Linked DNA regions of Homo sapiens. The protein of the gene in region 1 interacts with the protein of each later gene in a pairwise test. Each region holds a gene or a part of one and is shown in the gene's direction. Other genes may lie near its edges.

Region 1 (3,500 bases):
TCATTATGGGAAAGAATCGGTAATTTGGTTGACTTCTGCACGGTTATTTTATAGCTAAGTATTGTATTTATTTTTGTTTCCACATGGGAGAGAGGCACCAGCCACTTTTCACTGTTAGGGTTTCTTTTTCTTTTTTTTTTTTTTTTTTGAGATGGAGTCTCGCTCTGTCGCCCAGGCTGGAGTGCAGTGGCACAATCTTGGCTCACTGCAAGCTCCGCCTCCCGGGTTCACGCCATTCTCCTGCCTCAGCCTCCTGAGTAGCTGGGACTACAGGCGCCCGCCACCACGCCCGGCTAATTTTTTGTATTTTTAGTAGAGACGGGGTTTCACCATGTTAGCCAGGATGGTCTCAATCTCCTGACCTCGTGATCCACCCACCTTGGCCTCCCAAAGTGCTGGGATTACAGGCGTGAGCCAACTGTTCAGGATTTCTAAAGTTCCTAATACAACCCTGGTGGGGTCAGGGTGGGTGAGTGGGAGTGGGCAGGTGTTATACGCAAAGGCATGGTGCTTGTAAAGTCAACAAGTTTTTACAGCTAGAGTGCAAAATGTGAATGTCTTAGGGAGTCTAGTGAGAACAAGTTTGAAGAGATGGAGTGGCAGATAAAGCTTGAAGAGCTAAGTGGAGGAGGTCAGGCTTCATGAGGCAGGAAATTGAGAGCCATTGGTGGTTCTAGAACAGAGACCTGGTAATAAGGCTGTAGGTCAATTAACATGGTAGCCACAGCTGGGATAGATTGTGTTGGAATCGTGGGAGATGGTTGCATTCATCCAGTGGTTCTCAAATTCTCATGTGCCTCTACATCACCTGGAGAGCTTATTGAAATACAGATAATGCAGCTTCTGGCTGGGCACGGTGGCTCACGCCTGTAATCCCAGCACTTTGGGAGGCTGAGGTGGGCGGATCACTTGAGGTCAGGAGTTCCAGACCAGCCTATCCAACATGGTGAAACCCCATCTCTACTAAAAATACAAACATTTGACTGGGTGCAGTGCCTCACACCTGTAATCCCAGCACTTTGGGAGGCCGAGGCAGGCGGATCACCTGAGGTTGGGAGTTCCAGACCAGCCTGACCAACATGGAGAAACCCAGTCTTTACTAAAAATACAAAATTAGCCGGGCATGGTGGTGCATGCCTGTAATCCCAGCTACCCGGGAGGCTGAGGCAGGAAAGTCGCTTGAACCCGGGAGGCAGAGGTTGTGGTGAGCCGAGATCACACCACTGCACTCCAACCTGGGCAACAAGAGTGAAACTCTGTCTCAAAAAAAAAAAAAAAAATTAGCTGGGTGTGTTGGCACATGCCTGTAGTCCCAGCTACTTAGGAGGCCGAGGCAGGAGAATTGCTTGAACTTGGGAGGGCGGAGGTTGCAGTGAGCTGAGATCATGCCACTGTACTCCAGCCTGGGCAACAGAGCGAGACTCTGTCTCAAAAAAAAAAAATGCAGATGATGCAGCTTTTGATGAAGTCGTAGGCCTGGGGTGGGGGCCTAGGAATCTGCATTCATAACAAACTCCCAGGTGAAATGGATGGTACTGGTCAGGGACCATACTTTGAAAACTACTGCACTAATCCAACCATGAAACTTACATTTGGATCGAACTTTGGAAATGACAGAGAAAGGGCGATGATTTCAAAGGAAAGATAAATCAGCGTATGTTGCTTGATTAAATGTTGGAACTAACAGAAGGCAGGCAAAATTATAAGGTTCTCAAGCCCAAAGTAATGTCAGATAAGCTAGATAAGAGGGAAGTTGGAAAGGAAGTTGCCTTGGATGCAGGATGAGGAGGGGAGGATACAGAGTTCTGTTTTGGACATGATAGTGCTAACAATGATGCCCAGTGCACAGTATGATGACATGGGACTGAGACTTAGGAACGATCACAGGTTAGAAGCCAGATACCTCAGAATGTCCTACAGAGGGGCTGTGGTTGAAACCTAGGGAAGGGAGAAATTGTCCAATGGCTAAGAGCTGAGAGTCAACCAAGGATGGAACCCTGGGACAGGCCTCCAGTTGATGAAGTAGGACCAGTAAGTTGGACAGAGAAGCAGAAAGAGATTCTGGATGTTGTAATTACACAGGTGCTAAGGGAAGAGAAGTTTTCAAAGAAGTAGAAGTCACAAGGGTAGGTGCCTGGATACTTCTGGTTTCTTACCTCCTGTTGTGAATCTGACTGGCAAATTGCTACTCACCTTCTACACCCAGCTGAGCCATTGCCCCCATGAAGCCCTCCTAGACTTTCCACCTCTCCCTACTCAAGTGGAGTCATTCTCCGTCTGCTTTGCATCAGTCCTGCCCCTTGGGTAAAACCTCAATTGTAGTTGGTTGCTTTTGTTTATGCTTCTGAGGTCTTAACCTTGGTGAAGTGTGGAATGGGGAACACTCAGAATGCTGTTTTCAAATAGCTGTGCCAAGAAACTCAGCTCAGGTGAAGCTTGTCCCTTTGCACAAGGCCAAGTTAGAGGGGAAAATAGGGCCCAGGTGTGGATCATCTTGCTGCTCCCACCTCCACCTGCAGGCGTTTTTCTGCCCACTTCCCTGGGGGTAGGGAGGGAGGAAAGGCTATAAAAATGGGCAACCAACTCTTTATAGAGATTTGTTTCATGTTAGACTCTCCTGTCCAAGGAGCAGGGAAAGAATGTCTTAATTTTTTCCTGAAAGTAGCTTGTTACGAGTTAAATTGTGTACCCTGAAAATATATATGGTTAAGTTCTTAACCCCCGTGCCTCAGAATGTGACCTTATTAGTTAAGATTAGTTCAGGTGAGGTCGTAAGTAGGGTAGGATGGACCTTAATCCAACATGACCAGAGTCCCTATAAGAAAAGGAGAAGGAGACACATGGAGAATGCTATGTGACAACAGAGGCAGAGATAGGAGTGACACATCTAGAAACCAAGGAACACCAAGGACTGATGGCCACTGCCAGAAGCTAGAAGAGGCAAGGAAGGATTTTTCCCTAGAGCCTTTGGATAGAGTATGGCCCTGTCCACACCTTGATTTCAGACTTCTAGCCAACTGCTAGCCTCTAGGACTCGGCGACAACAAATTTCTGTTGTTTTAAGCCACCCAGTTTGTGGTGTTTCGTTATGGTATCCCTAGGAGGCTAATTTATACCTACTCATAGAAACTTAGGAAAATACATTGAAGGATAAACTAACCACCCATAATTCCACCAAGCAGGTAATCACTGTTCCCAGTGTTAGTGTCTATCTTTTGGGGTTTTGCCTGAAGACTGACAACTGTAGAGATATTTCTATCCTTGCAAAATTGAGCCCACCCTGTAGAGAGTATTCACATTTAAACAGAAGACAAGCTAGAACAGGTATTGAAAGAAAACAATTTTATTGTCTTATGGTGAATTTTTAGATATTGGGGCACCTCAGGAGGGGTGAGTTTTCTGGGGGAAAACCTGCCTGTTGAGACAGAATGGGTGATAATGTGAGGGCCCTTTGGAGAAGGCAGCTTTATATTGAGAGAGAGAGAGAGAGAGAGAAGAGA
Region 2 (3,989 bases), on another chromosome or scaffold:
CGGGGAGAGCCACGGGCAGGGGCGGGGTGGGGTTCATGGTATGGCTTTCCTGATTGGCGCCGCCGCCACCACGCGGCAGCTCTGATTGGATGTTAAGTTTCCTATCCCAGCCCCACCTTCAGACCCTGTGCTTTCCTGGAGGCCAAACAACTGTGGAGCGAGAACTCATCTCCAAAATAACTTACCACGCTGGAGTGAGACCACGAATGGTGGGGAGGGGAGGGTCCCACGGACATATTGAGGGACGTGGATACGCAGAAGAGGTATCCATGTGGTGGCAGCCGGGAAGGGGTGATCAGATGGTCCACAGGGAATATCACAAACTCGAATTCTGACGATGTTCTGGTAGTCACCCAGCCAGATGAGCGCATGGAGTTGGGGGTGGGGGGTGTCAAAGCTTGGGGCCCGGAAGCGGAGTCAAAAGCATCACCCTCGGTCCCTTGTTCTCGCGTGGATGTCAGGGCCCCCACCCACCGAGCAGAAGGCGGACTCAGGGGCGCTCCAGGGTGGCTCGAGCTCACACACGCTGAGTAGACACGTGCCCGCTGCACCCTGGGTAAATACAGACCCGGAGCCGAGCGGATTCTAATTTAGACGCCCGCGAACGCTGCGCGCACGCACACGTGTCCTCGGCTCGCTGGCACTTTCGTCCCGCCCCCTCCGTCGCGTGCGGGAGCTGACCCGGAGGGGTGCTTAGAGGTATGGCTCCGCGGGGTCAAAAGGAGAAGGATCAGTGAGAGAGGCATCCCCACACCCTCCCCTAGAACTGTCCTTTCCCCATCCAGTGCCTCCCAAATCTCTCTTAGTCCCCAAATGTATCCCCGCCCTAAGGGGCGCTGGTGGGAGGAGCTAAATGTGGGGGCGGGGCTCGGAGTCCAGCTTATTATCATGGCATCTCAGCCAGGGCTGGGGTAGGGGTTTGGGAAGGGCAACCCAGCATCCCCCGATCCCAGAGTCGCGGCCGGGGATGACGCGAGAGAGCGTGGTCGCCCCCAGAAGGCCCTGGGCCATCATGCCGGCCTCCACGTAGACCCCAGGGGTCGCTCACTCCTGCCAGCTCGCCTTCACCAAGGCCAGGAGCTTAGCGCACGCTCGCCTCCCGCCCCCCCGCCGCCTCTGCCGCCGCCCCCTCCTTGGAAACCAAGTTACCAACGTTAAACCAATCCCCAAGCGCAACTCTGCCTCCCCCACACCCCACCCGCCGCGCCGCGCGGAGCCGTCCTCTAGCCCAGCTCCTCGGCTCGCGCTCTCCTCGCCTCCTGTGCTTTCCCCGCCGCGGCGATGCCAGGGCCTTCGCCAGGGCTGCGCCGGGCGCTACTCGGCCTCTGGGCTGCTCTGGGCCTGGGGCTCTTCGGCCTCTCAGGTAAGAGCCCCGCTCTGGTTCGGGGTGGACAGGGCGGGGGCGGAGTCCCTGGACCTGAGAAACGGCCTCCTGTCCCTCCCAGCTCTGCCCTCGCCTCGCTCCCACGCCTCTGCCCCCACCTCGAGCCTGAGTCTTCTCCCCTTCCCCCTCCTCCCCAACACACACCCGAGCCCCAGCTTCCTGACTCCTCGATAGCCCCTACCCGCTTCGAGATCCTAGGTGTTCTTCCGCACCCAACCCTTCGCCCTGGAGACCCAGTGTCTCTCCTGTCCGCTCCCCGGGTACCTCCTTACGCTGTGCTGTGCACCATGGTCCACGGACTGGCATCTTCCCCACTCGCGGTCCGCGAAGACTCCATCTCTCCAACTACCCTGACTCAGAGGCGCTGTTCCCGCTCCACCCAGAGCCCTGGCAACCGGGTCCCTCAGCTGTTCCCGCGGTTCCTTCCATGAGCCCAGCCTTGCGTCCCGGCTCCGTGTTCTTCACCGGGTGTAGGGTCCTTCCTGATCCTTGACCCAGCCTCGTCTCTCCTTTGCCCTTGCCGCAAACGCACTCTCCTCGTATCCCGGCATTCTGCCAGGACCCTGAGAACTGGTTCATCCCCCATCCCCCATCCCGGGTCCCCTTCTCTCAGCCTTGCTGTGTTCATCCAAGAACCCACCTTTCCTCTCCTCTACGCCCTCCCCCCATGCTTTCCCGCCGCTCCATCGGCGCTTTGGAGACCATGGCTCTCTGCTACCACGTCCCAGAGACACCCTCGAGGTTTAGACTCTGGGAGTGCGCCTTTAAACCGGAGGCCTGGGCAGGACGCGGGACGCCTGGGTTCTTTCCCTGGCTGCAGCCTCTCCTCCTCCTCCCCGCCCTCTGAGAACCCTTGACTCGACATAGGGGCGCTAAGATGTCAGGGAGTTGGCTCCCCAGGCTCAGCCCGCGTTTCCCTGGGCAGCGGTCTCGCAGGAGCCCTTCTGGGCGGACCTGCAGCCTCGCGTGGCGTTCGTGGAGCGCGGGGGCTCGCTGTGGCTGAATTGCAGCACCAACTGCCCTCGGCCGGAGCGCGGTGGCCTGGAGACCTCGCTGCGCCGAAACGGGACCCAGAGGGGTTTGCGTTGGTTGGCGCGGCAGCTGGTGGACATTCGCGAGCCGGAGACTCAGCCCGTCTGCTTCTTCCGCTGCGCGCGGCGCACACTACAGGCGCGTGGGCTCATTCGCACTTTCCGTGAGTTCTGGGTGGCCACGCGCGTACTCCACTACTCTCCCTCCCTCCCAGGCCCCGCCCCCTGGGTCCCAGGGTCCTCCCCTTCAGGCCCCACCTTCTGTTCCAAGTCCCGGTGTTCAAAGAGCTGCGGACTCTTCCCCCTTGCAGAGCGACCAGATCGCGTAGAGCTGATGCCGCTGCCTCCCTGGCAGCCGGTGGGCGAGAACTTCACCCTGAGCTGTAGGGTCCCCGGCGCCGGGCCCCGTGCGAGCCTCACGCTGACCCTGCTGCGGGGCGCCCAGGAGCTGATCCGCCGCAGCTTCGCCGGTGAACCACCCCGAGCGCGGGGCGCGGTGCTCACAGCCACGGTACTGGCTCGGAGGGAGGACCATGGAGCCAATTTCTCGTGTCGCGCCGAGCTGGACCTGCGGCCGCACGGACTGGGACTGTTTGAAAACAGCTCGGCCCCCAGAGAGCTCCGAACCTTCTGTGAGTGGGTGTGGGGAGGAGATGGGGACCCAGTGGGGTCGGTCGGTGTTTAGGAGGTTTAGAGGTAGATACATCTGAATGCTGACCCCGACTTCAACCCTCGCCGGCTGAGCTGTTTCCCCCTCCGTGCCTTGAGGATGATAATACGATAAGATAGTGCATGTCAAGTGCTTAGGACATATTGAGCGCTCGGAGTTAGTTCAAACTTGGTTCTTCGACCCCTAGCCCTGTCTCCGGATGCCCCGCGCCTCGCTGCTCCCCGGCTCTTGGAAGTTGGCTCGGAAAGGCCCGTGAGCTGCACTCTGGACGGACTGTTTCCAGCCTCAGAGGCCAGGGTCTACCTCGCACTGGGGGACCAGAATCTGAGTCCTGATGTCACCCTCGAAGGGGACGCATTCGTGGCCACTGCCACAGCCACAGCTAGCGCAGAGCAGGAGGGTGCCAGGCAGCTGGTCTGCAACGTCACCCTGGGGGGCGAAAACCGGGAGACCCGGGAGAACGTGACCATCTACAGTAAGGAAGGAGGCGGGGTCTCCGCGGCTCCGAGGTGGGACCAGAGGAATGCGAAGGCGGGGCGAAGAGTGGGCGGGACCTCAGTACCGGAACAGGCGTGGCCCGAGGGGCGGGGCAGGTGGGGGCGGAGACGTAATCGCTGGGGAGGAGGAGCCTGTACAGCCTGAGAGGCGGGGCGCCGTACCCTAGTTCGTTCTCAGCACCCCGAGGATTCGGGCAGATAAGGGGCGGGCCTTGACCGGAGGGAGGGGTATGGTCAGTATACTACGACCAAATGCTCCGCCCCCAGGCTTCCCGGCACCACTCCTGACCCTGAGCGAACCCAGCGTCTCCGAGGGGCAGATGGTGACAGTAACCTGCGCAGCTGGGGCCCAAGCTCTGGTCACACTGGAGGGAGTTCCAGCCGCGGTCCCGGGGCAGCCCGCCCAG
Region 3 (3,500 bases), on another chromosome or scaffold:
AAAAAGAATCAAAAATTGCCGGGCATGGTGGCTCATGCTTGTAATCCCAGCACTTTGGGAGGCCGAGGTGGGCAGATCACCTGTGGTCAGGAGTTCAAGACCAGCCTGGCCAATCATGGCCAACATGGTGAAACCCTGTCTCTACCAAAAATACAAAAATTAGCTTAGCGTGGTGGTGCATGCCTGTAATCCCAGCTACTCGGGAGGCTGAGGCAGGAGAAGTGCTTGAACCCAGGAGGTGGAGGTTGCAGTGAGCCTGCGTCACAGCAGTCCAGCCTGGGCAACAGAGTGAGACTCCGTCTCAAAAAAAAAGAAGAAGAAGAATAAAAAATTAGCCAGGCATGGTAGCACATGCTTGTGGTCCCAACTACTTGGGAGGCTGAAGCAGGAAGATCGCTTGGGCCCAGGGGGTTGAGGCTGCAGTGAGCCATGATCACTCCAGCTTGGGTAACAGGGCAAGACTCTGTCTCTCAAGAAAAAAATAAAATTGATTTCCTTAGTCACATTAGCCACATTTCAAGTACTCAATAGCCACTTGTGGCTAGTGGTTGCTATACTGGTCAGCACATGACTTTTCTGTCATCACAGAAAGTTTTACTGGACTGTGCAGGCTTACAGATTTCTAGGATAATAATCAAGGCAGCCAAGTTCAGGCATGCATAGTTCCTTCACTGAGCTGATTCCCTGAATACATAGTTCTACCTGTGTCTGGGAAACAGGGATGCCAGAGGATGATTAGGAGGCCTATTTTTGAACATCTGAAGCTGAGTTCTTTTTCTGCAGAGAAGCAAAAGACTTTATTTTTTGCCATTCCTGTTTTTTTTTTTTTGAGACAGGGCCTTGCTCTGTCACCCAGGCTGGAGTGCAGTGGCACGATCTCGGCTCACTGCAGCCTCTGGCCTCTTGGGTTCAAGCAATTCTACTGCCTCTGCCTCCCGAGTAGCTGGGATTATAGGCATGTGCTGCCACGCCTGGCTAATTTTTGTATTTTTAGTACAGGTGGGGTTTTACCATGTTGGCCAGGCTGGTCCTGAACTCCTGACCTCAAGTGATGCGCCCACCTCAGCCTCCCAAAGTGCTGGGATTACAGGCATGAGCCACTGTGTCCAGCCTCTTTTTTTTTTTTTTTTTTAATTGTTAGCCATCTATACTTTAAAAAGTCTATACCTCTCTGAAGGGCAAGTTGTGAAAAGATTTAAAAAAAAAAAAAAAAACCCAGCCGGATGCAGTGGCTTACACCTGTAATCCCAGCACTTTGGGAGGCTGAAGCAGGCGAATCACCTGAGATCAGGAGTTCGAGACCAGCCTGACCAACATGGAGAAACCCTGTCTCTACTAGAAATACAAAATTAGCTGGGCATGGTGGTGCATGCCTGTAATCCCAGCTATTCAGGAGGCTAAGGCAGGAGAATTATTTGAACCCAGGAGGCGGAGGTTGCGGTGAGCCAAGATCGCGCCATTGCACTCCAGCCTGGGCAACAAGAGTGAAACTCCGTCTCAAAAAAAAAAAAAAAAAAAAACCCATACCACCTTTGTTTCCCATAGTAACTCTACCAGGTGGCCAGAGTGGCTCTTATTCCTCTTTACATGTGTCACTTACGCAGAGAGAAGTAGGAGTTAATTTGTCTTAAATTCTCTACTTAGTAGGGTTGCTTGCACTGAAGCCCTAGTAATCCCCAGTTTATTGCTGCCTCCTTGAGCTGACAACTGCTTATACTCTGATGCTGATCTTTTCTCTATTCCGCAGGTCTCTAGCATCAATTCACGCTTTGCCAAAGTACACATCCTGTATGTGGGGTCCATGCCTCTTAAGAACTCTTTTCGAGGAACTATCCGGTAAGAAGTATCCTTTTCACATATACCTTAGCAACTGGAATAAGATTAGGATAGACTAGGACACCAGAATTTTGAGCAACAGTTACAATTCCTATTTTTCTTTTGCCCGTTTTTCTTTCTTCTTTGTGCTTTGATTCTCCCCTAGTAGTATCCAAAAAATACATGGATGATCTAGGACAAAAGGAAAATATTAACGAGAGGGTTTAAAAGTAAAGCAAAGGCTGGGCGCGGTGGCTCACGCCTGTTATCCTAGCACTTTGAGAAGCTGAGGCGGGTGGATCTCTTGAGATCAGGAGTTTGAGACCAGCCTAGCCAACATGGTGAAACCCCATCTCTGTAAAAAATACAAAAATTAGCCAGGCACAGTGGCTCACACCTGTAATCCTATCACTTTGGGAGGCTGAGGTGGGTGGATCACAAAGTCAGGGGTTTGAGACCAGCCTGGCCAGTGTGGTGAAACCCTGTCTCTACTAAAAATACAAAAACTAGCCGGACATGTTGGCGTGTGCCTGTAATCCCAGCTGCTCAGGAGGCTGAAGCCAAAGAATCGCTTGAACCCAGGAGGCAGAGGTTGCAGTGAGCCAAGATTGCGCCATTGCACTCCAGCCTGGGGGACAGAGCGAGACTCTGTCTTTAAAAAAAAAAAAAAAAAAAATTAGCTGGGCATGGTGGTGCGTGCCTGTACTCCCAGCTACTTGTGGAGCTGAAGCAGGAAGATCACTTGAGCCTAGGAGGCAGAGGTTGCAGTGAGCTGAGATTGCACCACTGCACTCTAGCCTGGGCAACAGAGTGAGACCCTGTCTCAAAAAACAAATAAATAAATAAAAGGTAAAGCAAAAAGAATTGAGTGAAGCTGAAGTTTAGCAGTGTCAGGATGACTCAAACCAAAGTAGAAGGCAGGCTGGGCGTGGTGGCTCATGCCTGTAATCCCAGCACTTTGGGAGGCCGAGGCGGGCGGATCACCTGAGGTCGGGAGTTCGAGACCAGCCTGACCAACATGGAGAAACACCGTCTCTACTAAAAATACAAAATTAGCCAGGCGTGGTGGCACATGCCTATAATCCCAGCTACTAGGGAGGCTGAGGCAGGAGAATCACTTGAACCTGGGAGGCGGAGCTTGCGGTGAGCCAAGATCGTGCCATTGTACTCCAGCCTGGGCAACAAGAGTGAAACTCCGTCTCAAAAAAAAAAAAAAAAAAAGTAGAAGGCATTTTAGGAAGCACTTTAAAATTTAATATAGATTGAACTCAGAGGTTATAAAACATTGAAAAGATTTGTGGGTGAGATGGTGATTTCGTGTGGCTTCCTTGAGAAAGGACAAACATTTCTTGCCAGGCAGATAATCTAACTTTTGAGGCCCTTTCCAGCCTCAGGATTTGATGTGGTTCTGTAGTGCAGCAGTCCCCAACCTTTTTGGCACCAGGGACCAGTTTCTTGGAAGACAGTTTTTCCACAGACCATGGAGGGGGTGGTTGCAGAATGATTCAAGTGCATTACATTTATGGTGCACTTTATTTCTGTTATTATTACACTGTAATATATAATGAAATAATTATACAGCTCACCATAATATAGAATCAGCGGGAGCCCTGAGTTTGTTTCCCTGCAATTCGATGGTCCCATCTGGGGGTGATGGGAGACAGTGACAGATCATCAGGCATTAG
Region 4 (3,500 bases), on another chromosome or scaffold:
TCCTGCCTCAGCCTCCCAAATAGCTGGGATTACAGGCACGCCACCACACCCGGCTAAATTTTTTATTTTTATTTTTGGTATTTTTAGTAGAGATGGGGTTTCACCATGTTGGCCAGGCTGGTCTCAAACTCCTGACTTCAGGTGATCCATCCACCTTGGCATCCCAAGGTGCTGGGATTACAGGCGTGAGCCACCACACCCAGCCGGCAGTAATGTTTTAGTATCCCCCAAATACTCATTTACCCTACTCCACATTATACACACAACAGTGTCAAAATAACAATACGATCAGACTACTACCAGCTAAGCTAAATGTTTTGGCATATATGCCCCTTTTATGGTTGTACTACCTATGTTGTCTGGATATAGCCATTACATACTATATTCTTTTGCTTGTAGCGCTCACTTAGGTTTCTGTGTGTGTGATCTCACTTAGTTTTGATTGTAGCAATATGTTGTTAAAAATACCTTTTAAATTAAGACTAAATGTTTAAAGATCTGTGGGGTTTTTTTTTTTTTTTTTTTTTTTTTTTTTTTGAGACAGGGCCTTGCCCTGTCTCCCAGGCTGGAATGCAGTGGCGCAATCTCAGCCCGCTACAACCTCCACCTCCTGGGCTAAAGTGATCTTTCCACCTCAGCTTCCTGAGTAGCTGGGATTACATTCAGGTGTGCATTGGCACGCCTGGCTAATTTTTGTTTTTTGGAAGTTTTTTGTTGTTGTTTTTTCGGTAGAGAGAGTTTCACCATGTGGCCCAGGCTGGGCTCAAGCTTCTGGGCTCAAGCAGTCTGCCTACCTCAACCTCCCAAAGTGCTGGGATTACAGGTGTGAGCCACCCGGCCTGGTCAAGATCTGTGTTTTAATTGTTAGCGAGAGCTTACCGCCCTGCTTTGTCTCCTGCCTCGCCTTCATATGCCCAAGGTGCACACAAACACATTTTAAAAATCAGTACTTCTCCTTTTACCTACTCAGTATGGATGGCACATCTCAAGTTCTACCCTTAATAAGCTCCTCCACCTCCATTCCCCTCACAGTGATTAGCTCTTTGCCTCAAACTTCTGCAGTATCTCTTTGCCATCGTTTGGTACTTGATTATAATCTTACTTATAGTAATTCTAAACTTACTGAAGGTGTGTACATTTCTACTGCTTGAATTATCTCCTGCTTGAGTATTTCTTTTCCTCCTTGTCTCCCAGTGTTTGCAAAAATTTGAGTGGCTTCTTAAGCTGATTATGAAATTGAAGACACCCGGACCCAAGTAACTTGGAGAACTCTTCTGGCTTGGAGTACAGTTATTTGTGTTGTTTATCCCCCTGGTAAACGGCATGTTCCTTGACTAGGGGACATCTTTCTGCTCCCTTGCTATTCCTGGCATAACGCCTTGTACATAATATGTTTAGTTAAATTTATAAGTATCCCTAATGATAACAGTCATAACAACATTTATTGAAGTTAATTCATCCTGTGCTCTGAACCCTTATATTTAAAAAAAAATTCTGCTGGCCGGGTGCGGTGGCTCACGCCTGTAATCCCAGCACTTTGGGAGGCCGAGGCAGGTGGATCACGAGGTCAGGAGATTGAGACCATCCTGGCTAACATGGTGAAACCCTGTCTCTAGTAAAAATACAAAAAATTAGCTGGGTGTGGTGGCAGGCACCTATAGTCTGAGCTACTCCGGAGGCTGAGGTAGGAGAATGGGGTGAACCCGGGAGCCGGAGCTTGCGGAGTGCCACTGCACTCCAGCCTGGGCAACAGAGTGAGACTCCGTCTCAAAAAAAAAAAAAAAAAAAAAATCTGCTAAGTGGGTACTGTTAATTCCTGTTTTGCAGATGAGGAAATAGAGGCTCAGAAAGGTTAAGTAATGGCACACAAGTACCAGAACATGGGGGGATTGGTACTGGAACCCAGCCACACTACTGCTGCCAGGGCTTTTGAGACTTTAAAAATGACATTGGGTTCTCCCATGGTGATTATTCTTTATGGAAGGGCAGCAAAGGAAATAATAAAGATAAATATGTAGGATAAAGAGAATTTGCCATTATGCTGTATAGTCTCCCTTAAATCTCCTACATAATTTTGGAAGTGTCAACTTGTCAAAATTTGCTTATTTTCACAGTTTGTCTTCCCACCTTTTCATAGCAAATCTGAACCCCTGAGTCTTGATAAGAGTAGTTGAAAAGTTGTGAAGTTTGTTCACTTTCACTTGTTTTTATCAGCTGTTCTTTTTTTAAGCTTTGCACTGTGCTCTGAAGAGTTTCTGTTAATGAATACATGATCCTGAGACAGGGTGATTTTGCTTTGCGTTTAACTTTTGCCAGGAAATGTCCCCACTAGTTTTTCTATGCTTTTTTTGGTGGTAAAATACCTAAGTCTATACTCTCCCCAACACCACATTGCCCCATGAATGTGGTAATGTAGCAATGGAAAGCTAGTGAAGATAATTTAAAATAACTTTTCTATGACCATTTAAAAATATGCTAGGTTTCAAACATTGGTGAAAGCAGAATAATTGTGATCCCTACTTATGATTACCTTGAGATCTGGAATCCTTATTGCTGTAGACTGCTTTTCTTGAAATCTGGTATTGTATTTTTTTTTTTTTTTTTTTTTGAGAGGGAGTCTCGCTCTGTCACTCAAACTGGAGTGCAGTGACACTATCTCAGCTGACTGCGACCTGCCTCCCGGGTTCAAGCAATTCTCCTGCCTCAGCCTCCTGAGTAGCTGGAATTACAGGCGTGTGCCACCACCACACCTGGCTAATTTTTGTATTTTTGGAAGAGACGAGGTTTCACCCTGTTGGTCAGGCTGGTCTCGAACTCCTGACCTTGTGATCCACCTGCCTCGGCCTCCCAAAGTGCTGGAATTACAGGCATGAGCCACCACACCCAGCCTGAAATCTGGTATTGTATTTTTTAAGACTACTTTTACATGTGGATTTATTTTTTTTTAAGACTACTTTTACATGTGGATTTATTTTTAAGGAAGAACAGAAACATATTTGAACTTGATGGGTTAAAGGTAAATTTATTTTTCTTTTTGGGTCCTATGACAATGTATTAGATATGTTATGTGAATGAAATTATCTTGAAGAGTTAATTTTTATTTTTCTTAAGTAAATATTGGCTCTAGTAGACCTCCTTTTGTGCATGTGATTTTTGTTTTGTTTTTGTTTCTTTAAATAAGCAACCCTTCTGTGGGGCTCAATTTTGGAAATCTTGGAAGTACTTCAACTCCAGCAACTACATCTGCTCCTTCAAGTGGTTTTGGAACCGGGCTCTTTGGATCTAAACCTGCCACTGGGTTCACTCTAGGAGGAACAAATACAGGTGAGGAGGATCTGATCACATTGTCAGAGAGTAGGCTTGGGATATTCTTTCCTAAATTGTGTCCTGTATCTCTCTTTACAAGGATCATCACTGGTAGTAGACCTTAAAAAATGGTAAATGCTAAGATGAAAAGAAATGCAAGGAATTGGAATTAAGGGCTAGTGATAGGCCCAATC

What was found.
Region 2: the proteins of ASB9 (region 1) and ICAM5 interact in binary tests that used the Homo sapiens proteins (3 or more experiments, as listed by UniProt).
Region 3: the proteins of ASB9 (region 1) and EXOSC1 interact in binary tests that used the Homo sapiens proteins (3 or more experiments, as listed by UniProt).
Region 4: the proteins of ASB9 (region 1) and NUP58 interact in binary tests that used the Homo sapiens proteins (3 or more experiments, as listed by UniProt).

Annotation. Positions count from the first base shown.
Region 1 is NC_000023.11:15,263,584-15,267,083, reverse strand, and holds part of ASB9 (ankyrin repeat and SOCS box protein 9), read left to right. Parts: intron 1-3,500. UniProt on the Homo sapiens protein: Substrate-recognition component of a cullin-5-RING E3 ubiquitin-protein ligase complex (ECS complex, also named CRL5 complex), which mediates the ubiquitination and subsequent proteasomal degradation of target proteins.
Region 2 is NC_000019.10:10,288,763-10,292,751, forward strand, and holds the start of ICAM5 (intercellular adhesion molecule 5 precursor), read left to right. Parts: upstream 1-1,189; 5' UTR 1,190-1,281; coding exon 1,282-1,363; intron 1,364-2,309; coding exon 2,310-2,579; intron 2,580-2,726; coding exon 2,727-3,047; intron 3,048-3,272; coding exon 3,273-3,560; intron 3,561-3,849; coding exon 3,850-3,989. UniProt on the Homo sapiens protein: ICAM proteins are ligands for the leukocyte adhesion protein LFA-1 (integrin alpha-L/beta-2).
Region 3 is NC_000010.11:97,439,507-97,443,006, reverse strand, and holds part of EXOSC1 (exosome complex component CSL4), read left to right. Parts: intron 1-1,747; coding exon 1,748-1,836; intron 1,837-3,500. UniProt on the Homo sapiens protein: Non-catalytic component of the RNA exosome complex which has 3'->5' exoribonuclease activity and participates in a multitude of cellular RNA processing and degradation events.
Region 4 is NC_000013.11:25,304,625-25,308,124, forward strand, and holds part of NUP58 (nucleoporin p58/p45), read left to right. Parts: intron 1-2,979; exon of another isoform or gene 2,980-3,016; intron 3,017-3,181; coding exon 3,182-3,324; intron 3,325-3,500. UniProt on the Homo sapiens protein: Component of the nuclear pore complex, a complex required for the trafficking across the nuclear membrane.